Linked DNA regions of Homo sapiens: region 2 is linked to region 1. The links come from fine-mapping of genetic effects on gene expression. A gene starts in region 1. The other region holds a variant in brackets. All regions are shown on one strand. Distances are from middle to middle. Region 1 holds the start of TPPP3 (tubulin polymerization promoting protein family member 3). Region 2 overlaps LOC124903701 (a long non-coding RNA gene).

Evidence for each region. PIP is the estimated chance that this variant, and not a neighbour inherited with it, causes the effect. A credible set is the group of variants that fine-mapping cannot tell apart.
Region 2: its variant is the best candidate, but not a certain one, in a credible set for the expression of TPPP3 in whole blood (INTERVAL, PIP 0.76).

The regions. Positions count from the first base shown.
Region 1 is chr16:67,391,190-67,395,574 of GRCh38, forward strand. TPPP3 (tubulin polymerization promoting protein family member 3) reads right to left here and starts at 2,309. Exons shown (of 4, transcript NM_015964.4): 1 at 2,191-2,309. ZDHHC1 (zDHHC palmitoyltransferase 1) reads right to left here. Exons shown (of 12, transcript NM_001323627.2): 9 at 4,295-4,377; 10 at 3,998-4,091; 11 at 3,813-3,873; 12 at 2,963-3,704. The coding sequence ends at 3,421.
Region 2 is chr16:67,272,864-67,277,248 of GRCh38, forward strand. All of the region lies in intron 2 of LOC124903701 (a long non-coding RNA gene), which reads right to left. Among named protein-coding and RNA genes, the nearest start is that of PLEKHG4, 4.5 kb to the right of the region's middle. The variant T/C (reference allele first, on the strand shown) is at 1,722.

The sequences.
Region 1 (4,385 bases):
CTCTACCTCAAACCTGCAAGACCTGGGCAGGTTCTGCTACAGAGTTGGTGCTGGAGCTGCCTGGGGAGAGGGGCCCGTCACTGTCGCCCTGGGCCACAGAGCCCCAAGGAAGAGCCCCGGGAGGCACGGTCTTGTCACTAATGCCAGCCCTGGCTCTCAGCAGGGTTCAGCAGATGAAATAATGATGCCCACAGGGAACAGAGTGGCACTGTCCAGAAAGACTGTTAGGGCAGCAGCTGGGGCCCTGGCTTTGTCTGGCCCTGGCACAAGGCCTTGCTTGGGTGGAAGTGAGGGTGGCAGAGCAGGCCCCCTCCCTGGAAGCTCCATGCCAAGCTGGCTTGGGGCCAGGCCAGGCTGCTGGTCGGGCAGGCATTCAGTGAGGACAGCATCTCTGTAAGGGTCATGAGGACCCAGCAAGAGCCAGTCTGGGCACGGGTGCATGCCCTGGGCAGGGGTGCAGCTGGTCCAGCAAGGCCTTGTTACTATTTGCTGTTAAACAAAAACATGAGGGGAGCTTGGGGCTGGCCTGGCCACAGTTTGTGAAGCCTGGAGACGGTTGCTAAGGGAGGGTGGTGCTGCTTGGAGAATGTTGCTAAGGGCAGGATGGTGTCAGGGCAGCTCAGGGAGAAGCTCCCAGTGCTGAGGGGCTGGGCTGGGCTGGGAAGCTGGGGCCCACGGGTGGGGCACGCCAGCACTCCCTGCGCCTAGGGCATAACCGTGGCTTCCTGGCCCCTTGCCACCGACTGGTGCTGTAACCTCCCACTGTGGAGTTTTGGGGGAGCAGGAGGTTGGGGGCTAGTAGCGTGGGGGCTGTAGAGTTACGAACCCCAAGAGTCGTGCTGGCAAGTGGGGCTGTGGCTGAAACACACTTCATCATGTCTACACCTCAGACCTCCCCTGGCCACGCCCTGAACTTGGCCACACCAGCCCACATTCCCAGCGACCCTGTGCACTCAGCCCTGGCCTGCCACCCCCTGGGCCTTGTACCCCTGGCCATACCTTCAGCCCTCCATCCTCCATCTTCACACCCACAGCCACAGCCCTCGGCCACCAGCCCCCACATATATACTAACAAGCCTGCGCCAACCCCAGTAATACCCACAGTCCAGCACTAAAGTGCCCCCCACACCCACAGCCCTCCGCTGCAGACCCCTGGCCACACCCTGAGCCTACACAGCAGCCTTCTCCATCCCCACACCCGCAGCCCTGGGGCTGAGGCCCCTGGCCACAAACCTGCATCCCTTCCTGAGACCCCTGACCATAGCCTCAGCCACTCACCCCCTCCAATACCCGCAGCCCTTTATCAAGGCGCCCTGACCCTCAGCACCCCTTTGTCCACACACCCTCAGCCCTCTGGCCACACCCTCAGCCTGCACTGAAGGCCCCAGTCCACATCCACACACTAACATTATAAGACTCCCAGGTACTATGCGGAGATCCCCTGCGTAGAGACCTCCCCACCACATCCCCCTCCTCCACTGCCACCTCCTGACCACACCCTCGGTCTCAGCAACCATCTTCTAGCTCTGCCTTTTACACTAGGGCTTCCAGTGACCACGGCCTGGGCTCTGCCCGGCTGCCCCATCTTCCACCAAAAACTCCTCGCCAGTGACCACACTCCCATCCCTAAGTGGCAGTTTCTGGGACTGTGAGCACCGGTGGTTCCTACGTTACAGGGACCATAACCCCAGTCCACGCTGCACTCCCCTTCCCTTTCCCTGGGTGCAACCTCCCACCAGGGACCCCAAGACCCGCACTTGGTTCACCAAGGGTAACGTCCAGGGGAGCTTGGATGCCACAGGGTGCTTGGCCCAAGCACTGGGCGGATCCTGCGTGCAGTGCTCACTCCTGTCCGTGGAAAGATGGATTCTTGGTCATCTCAGCGCGGTCAGGTGGCGCTGGGTTGCAGGCCGCAGCCCCATGGGTCTGCAGGCCATGGATGGAGTGGCCACACCCGTGAACTGGAGCCACCCGTCCCGCTCCCACTGGGACAGCTGGAGTCATCAATCAGCCGGACCAGGAGGTGGGGGCTGCGAGGTGGAATGCTTGGGGCCAGGGCAGGGCCGCTCAGCTGGCTCCTCGGCTGGGACCGCCGGAGGTTGGGACCCTTTCCAGGCTGCTCCCCCCAACCCTCATCGTGCAGGATACTGATTGGGGTGGCGGGCATCTGGGTCTCCTATGGGCTTCTACCTCGCGGCTGCTCCTGAAGTGTGCGTTCGGAAGGACAGAACGACGCAGGAATGGACCGATGGACGCGGGAGACCAGGCGGCTCCGCAGCTCCGCTCCCTGCCGGCTCCCGGGTGGGACTGCAGCCCAGGCGGCTCCGCCGTATTATCCCCTGTTTCTCGGTCTCCATAGAGACGGCGAGTCCCACCCCCGAGGCTGTCTCGGCGGGAGAGTGACCAAGGTCACGCCGGCCCCGCCCACGAGGCCCCGCCCTCCCCGAGACTCTCCGGGAGCCGCATCCCGCCCCTCCCCCGCAACTCCGCGGTCCTCGCGACGGCGAGACCAGCGCTCTGCAGTTCGGGGCGTCTTCGGACGGCCCCCTGAGGAAACAGCCTCCCATCCTGGGATGTGCCTAAAGCTCTAAGCGGCCCCAATCTCCAGAAGAGATCCAGCTCCCCAGAGAGTCAACCAGAGGCCACTGGGGAGCTGCGCGGGGCATTGGTGGGGCTTGGGGAATCGGGAAGGAGCTCTCCCTCAGTGACAGGGGTATACGGTTGACTCAAGAGCACTGCCATCCACTGAACGGATGGCACCCCCAGGCCACAACTCCCGTGCTCTCTTGGGTAGGATTCAGAGCCTGGAGCAGTGGGGAAGAAGGGAGGGGACTCCCTACGAGCGAATCGCGCTCGCCCAGCCCCAGGATGCTGGCATTCGACGGCAGCCCTGCTGCCGGGGAAAAGCTGCGGGACCTCCTGGCTCGGCCCCCTCCTTTCGCCGCCACCTCCCCACGGCCTCGCAGCCTCAGCGCCCACTGCTGCTTTCGGAGCCCAAAGCCTGCTTTCTCTCGGCCTCCCAGTGCAAAGCCCATCTTTAAGAAAAATAACCTCCTCCAGGCCGCCTTCTAAGGCCTTTCCTAACCACGAGCCGCACGTGAGCACCTCCACAGGGCAGCCTGGGTGGCTACCTACTATACAGGGACCTCCTCCCCGCCCCCGGTCCACTGGCCAGGGTCGGGCTTCTGGATGGCCCGTGGCCCCTGCCATTAAGAAAGTAAGCGCGACGTCCGCAAAAGCATAAAAAAGTTTATTGGAGCATCACAGCCGGTGGGGCGGGTATTGCTGAGTCGTGGGGGAGGGAGGCCGATCCCGCCGGCCGTAGGGGCCCCTAAAGTGCACTCGGTGCGGCAAGGATGGGGTGTTGCATAGAGAGTCAGGCCGGCCGCTCTAACTCGGCCCTCCGGCCTCTCGGCCCAGCTAAGCCAGACCAGCCTCCCGGCCGCCCGGCGCCCTGGGCTCGCCGCTGCTCGGGCTCACGAAAACGGCGGGCGCACGCGCCTGCCGCGCCAGCGTGGGCTGTCGGCCCCGGCCCCGCGGGGCGGCCAGAGCGGCGCTGCCCAGGCGCGTCTGCGCCACTGGAATCTCGTCCACGGACTCTGCCGACGCCGAGTGGTAGGCGCCGGCAGGGCCAGCGGCGTGCACAGGGCTGGCGTCCGCGGAATCCGTCGACGAGCTGGAGCGGCGGCTGGGGGCCCTAGGCCCTGCGCAAGGGAAGGGAACATGAGCCCAGTGGCTGCGGCTCGCTTGTGGCTCTGCCTTCCCCTCCCTCGAGTTCCCAGAGCAGGACCCGGACAGGGAGAGGCGCTCACCCGACGCCGGATCCGAGGTCTCAGACGTTCGCACTTTATACACGCGCCTCTTCCTCTTTTTCTGCAGAGACACGGGGGAGCCTGAGGGCCCCACATCGCCAAAAGAAGCAGAGGCGAGCGCCAGGGTAGAGGCTTCTTTCTATCCCACTCCACCTGGACCGGAGGCCCAGCACAGTCCCTCCTACCTGGGGTCGGATCCGGGGAGGCAGGGCGAGAGTGTCTGGGGAAGAGGGTGGTGGAGGTTCCGCTTGGCCACGGGTGGCAAGAAACTGGGAGGGACTGAGGGGGAAGCAGGAGGGTAAGCCTGGGGCCTGTTCCCCAAATCCCTCCCCACTGGAGGTGCTGAGAGAAGCTTCCCTTCCTGTTAGCTCAGAGAAGGGCCTGACCCATGCCCCGACCTTAGCCTACCCCCTTCTCCTGCCTCGATGGCCCTGCCATGCTAACTGGAGATGCCCAGTGGCACATGCCCAGGTTGCACTCACTTGGCATTCACTGCTGCTGGCCCGGCCTGGCCAGGGGGCTCTGGGCGCATATGTCTGAAGGTCCGCATGTAGAACTCCATCTCCTGGGGAA
Region 2 (4,385 bases), 120 kb before region 1:
CTCTGTCACCCAGGCTAGAGTACAGTGGCATGATCTCGGCTTACTGCAACCTCTGCCTCTTGGGTTCAAGCAATTCTGCCTCAGTCTCCTGAGTAGCTGGGACTAGAGGCACATGCCACCATGCCTGGCTAATTTTTTGTATTTTTAGTAGAGACAGAGTTTCACCACGTTGGCCAGGCTGGTCTCGAACTCCTGACCTCAAGTGATCTGCCTGCCTCAGCCTCCCGAAGTGCTGGGATTACAGGTGTAAGCCACTGTGCCTGGCATATATATATATAATTATATATAATATATATAATAATATATATTATATATTATATATTAATATAATATATAATATATATAATATATATTATATATAATAAATATATAATATATAATATATATTATATATAATAAATATATAATATTATATAATTATATATTATATAATATATATTATATATATTATATAATATATATATTTTTTTTTCCTGGAGGTAGGGCCTCACAATGTTGCTCAGGCTGTTCTTGAACTCCTGACCTCAAATAATCCTCCTGCTTTGACCTCCTCAAGTGTTGGAATTACAGGTGTGAGCCACCTCACCTGGCCATCTCTGAGTGTTTATGATGCAAATCAGATAGTGTGGGGTCCAGAAACATGAATAGAAATCCCTAGATGGCCGGGCACAGTGGCTCATGCCTGTAATCCCAGCATTTTGGGAGGCCAAGGTGAGTGGATCACCTGAGGTTGGGAGTTCGAGACCAGCCTGACCAACATGGAGAAACCCAGTCTCTACTAAAAATACAAAATTAGCTGGGTGTGGTGACACACGCCTGTAATCCCAGCTACTCAGGAAGGCTGAGGTGGGAGAATCACCTGAACTCAGGAGAATAGCTTGAACCCAGAAGGCAGCGGTTGCAGTGAGCCGAGATTGCACCATTGCACTCCAGCCTGGGCAACAAGAGCAAAACTCCATCTCAAAAAAAAGAAAAAAAAAGAAAAAAAAGAAATCCCTAGATAAGAGCAGTCCCAAATCCAATTCCCCTGGTGTCTAAAGGACTTAAAACAAAAACAAAAACTTTGGCCCAGCACAGTGGCTCACGCCTGTAATCCCAGCACTGTGGGAGGCCGAGGCAGGTGGATCACCTAAGGTCAAGAGTTCAAGACCAGCCTGGCCAACATGGTGAAACCCCATCTCTACTAAAAATAACAAAAATTAGCCAGGCATGGTGGCGCTCACCTGTAATCCCACCTACTCGGGAGGCTGAGGCAGGAGAATGGCTGGAACCCGGGAGGCAGAGGTTGCAGTGAGCTGAGATCGTGCCACTGTACTCCAGCCTGGGGGGCAGAGAGAGACTCCATCTTAAAAAAAAAAAATCTTTGAGAGCTGGGCACAGTGGCTCATACCTATAATCCCAGCACTTTGGGAGGCCAAGGCAGGCGGTTCGCTTAAGGCCAGGAGTTCAAGACTAGCCCGGGCAGCATAGCAAGACCCTGTCTCTACCAAAAATCCAAAAAATTAGCTGGGCGTGATGACTCGCAACTTTAGTCCCAGCTACCCAGGAGGCTGAGGCACAAGAATAGCTTCAACCCGGGAGGCGGAGGTTTCAGTGAGCCAAGATCGCACCACTGCACTCTAGTCTGGGTGACAGAGCAAGACTCCATCTCAAAACACACACACACACACACACACACACACACACACACACACACCAAAAAAACCCCATATATATATATA[T/C]ACACACACACACATACACACACATATATACACACGCATATATATACGCATATATATACACACACATGTATATACACATATACACACATATATACACATATACACACACATATACACATATATACACACACATATATACACATATATACACACACATACACACACATATACATATATACACACATATATACATATATACACACATATATATACATATATACACATATATATACACATATATATATATATATACACACACATATACTGCACTGCACTGACTAGAGTGCAGTGGTGCGATCTCGGCTCACTGCAACCTCTGCCTCCCGGGTTCCAGCCATTCTCCTGCCTCAGCCTCCCGAGTAGGTGGGATTACAGGTGAGCGCCACCATGCCTGGCTAATTTTTGTTATTTTTAGTAGAGATGGGGTTTCACCATGTTGGCCAGGCTGGTCTTGAACTCTTGACCTTAGGTGATCCACCTGCCTCGGCCTCCCACAGTGCTGGGATTACAGGCGTGAGCCACTGTGCTGGGCCAAAGTTTTTGTTTTTGTTTTAAGTCCTTTAGACACCAGGGGAATTGGATTTGGGACTGCTCTTATCTAGGGATTTCTTTTTTTTTTTTTTTCTTTTTTTTGAGATGGAGTTTCGCTCTTGTTGCCCAGGCTGGAGTGCAATGGTGCAATCTCGGCTCACTGCAACCGCTGCCTTCTGGGTTCAAGCTATTCTCCTGATTCTCCCACCTCAGCCTTCCTGAGTAGCTGAGATATATTTGAGATATAAGTCACATACCATAAAAATTCACCCATTTTAAGTGTACAGTTCAGTGTTTTGAATATACCCATAGGGTTGTGCAGCCCTTACCACAATCTAAGTTTAGAACATTTTCATCATCCCCCAAAAAACCCTGTACTCATTAGCAGTCAGTCCTCATCCCTGGCCCTCCTCAGCCCTAGGTAATAACTAACCTACTTTCTGGCTGTCTGGATCTGAAGGACTTTTGACACACTTGGAAGGTTATACTTTTAGCCAACTTACCTTTACTTTTTCTGCATTATGCGCAGGGAAGGTGTGATGAGAAGGAAGAGTGACTTGGGCTTTGCCCTTAGGTTGTTTACAGGCCACAGTGATAAGGCCTCGTAGTTAACTAGTCGTCAACAGTTTATTTTTTTAATTTTTATTTTTTACTCTTTTTGAGACAGTCTCAGTCAGGTCACTCAGGCTGGAGTGCAATGGTATGATCTTGGCTCATAACCTCTGCCTCCCAGGTTCAAGCAATTCTCCTGCTTCAGCCTCCCAAGTAGTTGGAATTACAGGTGCCCACCACCATGCCCGGCTAATTTTTTGTATTTTTAGTAGAGACAGGGTTTTGCTATGTTGGCCAGGCTGGTCTCGAACTTCTGACCTCAGGTGATCCACCCGCCTCGGCCTCCCAAAGTGCTGGGATTACAGGCATGAGCCACTGCGCCCGGCCGTAGTCAACAGTTTAGAGTCAACAGCCCCAGCTGTCACTCACAAGTGTCATTCTGGGTGTGTTACATGCTCTCTCTGAGCCTCAGTGTCCTCATCTCTCAAATGAGATAATCATACTCACTTCATAAGGCTGCTGTCAGGATTAAATGACAAAATTTAATGGGAAGAATCTACCCAGGGCCTGGCTCAAGGTAAGGGATCATAAATGTCATTATTTGTCGGGCCGGGTGCGGTGGCTCATGGTTGTAATCCCAGCACTTTGGTAGGCCAAGGCGGGTGGATCCCTTGAGGTCAGGAGTTTGAGATCAGCCTGGCCAACATGCTGAAACTCCATCTCTACTGAAAATACAAAAACTAGCTGGGCATGGTGGTGCATGCCTGTAATCCCAGCTACTCTGGAGGCTGAGGCAGGAGAATCACTTGAGCCCAGGAGATGGAGGTTGCAGTGGTGGGGGCAGATGAACATGGTGGGTTTGACAGGGAGGCAGGCAGGTGACTTGGATGCAGGAGAGCAAGTGCGTCAAGCGCTCATCCATGGGTCCTTGCCATGTGACTGGGCAGGGTGGCCTGAGCTGAGAGAACTTGGCTGGGGTAGTCTTCGTGAAGGAGATGCTGCACCCAGGCCTCAAATGAGGAAGGATTTTGATTAGGGGAGATGGGCATGGGCCTTCAGGAAGAGGAGCCAGTGTGAGACTAGACTAGTAATCAGATTTGTTTTCCAGGCCAGTCTGGGAGGTAGATGGGAAGGCTGTGATGCCTCTAAGTGGCCTTGACTGTCATACCAAGGAGTTTGGAGTTTATTTAGGCCAAAGGCAAGAGAGGTCTGGAAGTTCTGGGGTATTTGTTGCCCTCAGTATTTGGGGTAGTACTGAAGAGGGGTGTGCAAGGTGAATGACTGTGGGTCTGTTGTCACTAGACCCAGTGAGGCCCAGAGCCCTCCCCTCCTTTTTATTTATTTATTTATTTTTGAGACAGAGTCTCGCTTTGTCACCCAGGCTGGAGTGCAGTGGTGTGATCTTGCCTCACTGGAACCCCTGCTTTCCAGGTTCATGTGATTCTCTTGCCTCAGCCTCTCAAGTAGCTGGGATTACAGGCATGTGCCACCACATCTGGCTAGTTTTTGTATTTTTAGTAGAGATGGGGTTTTGCCATGTTGGCCAAGCTAGTCTGGAACTCCCGACCTCAGGTGATCTGC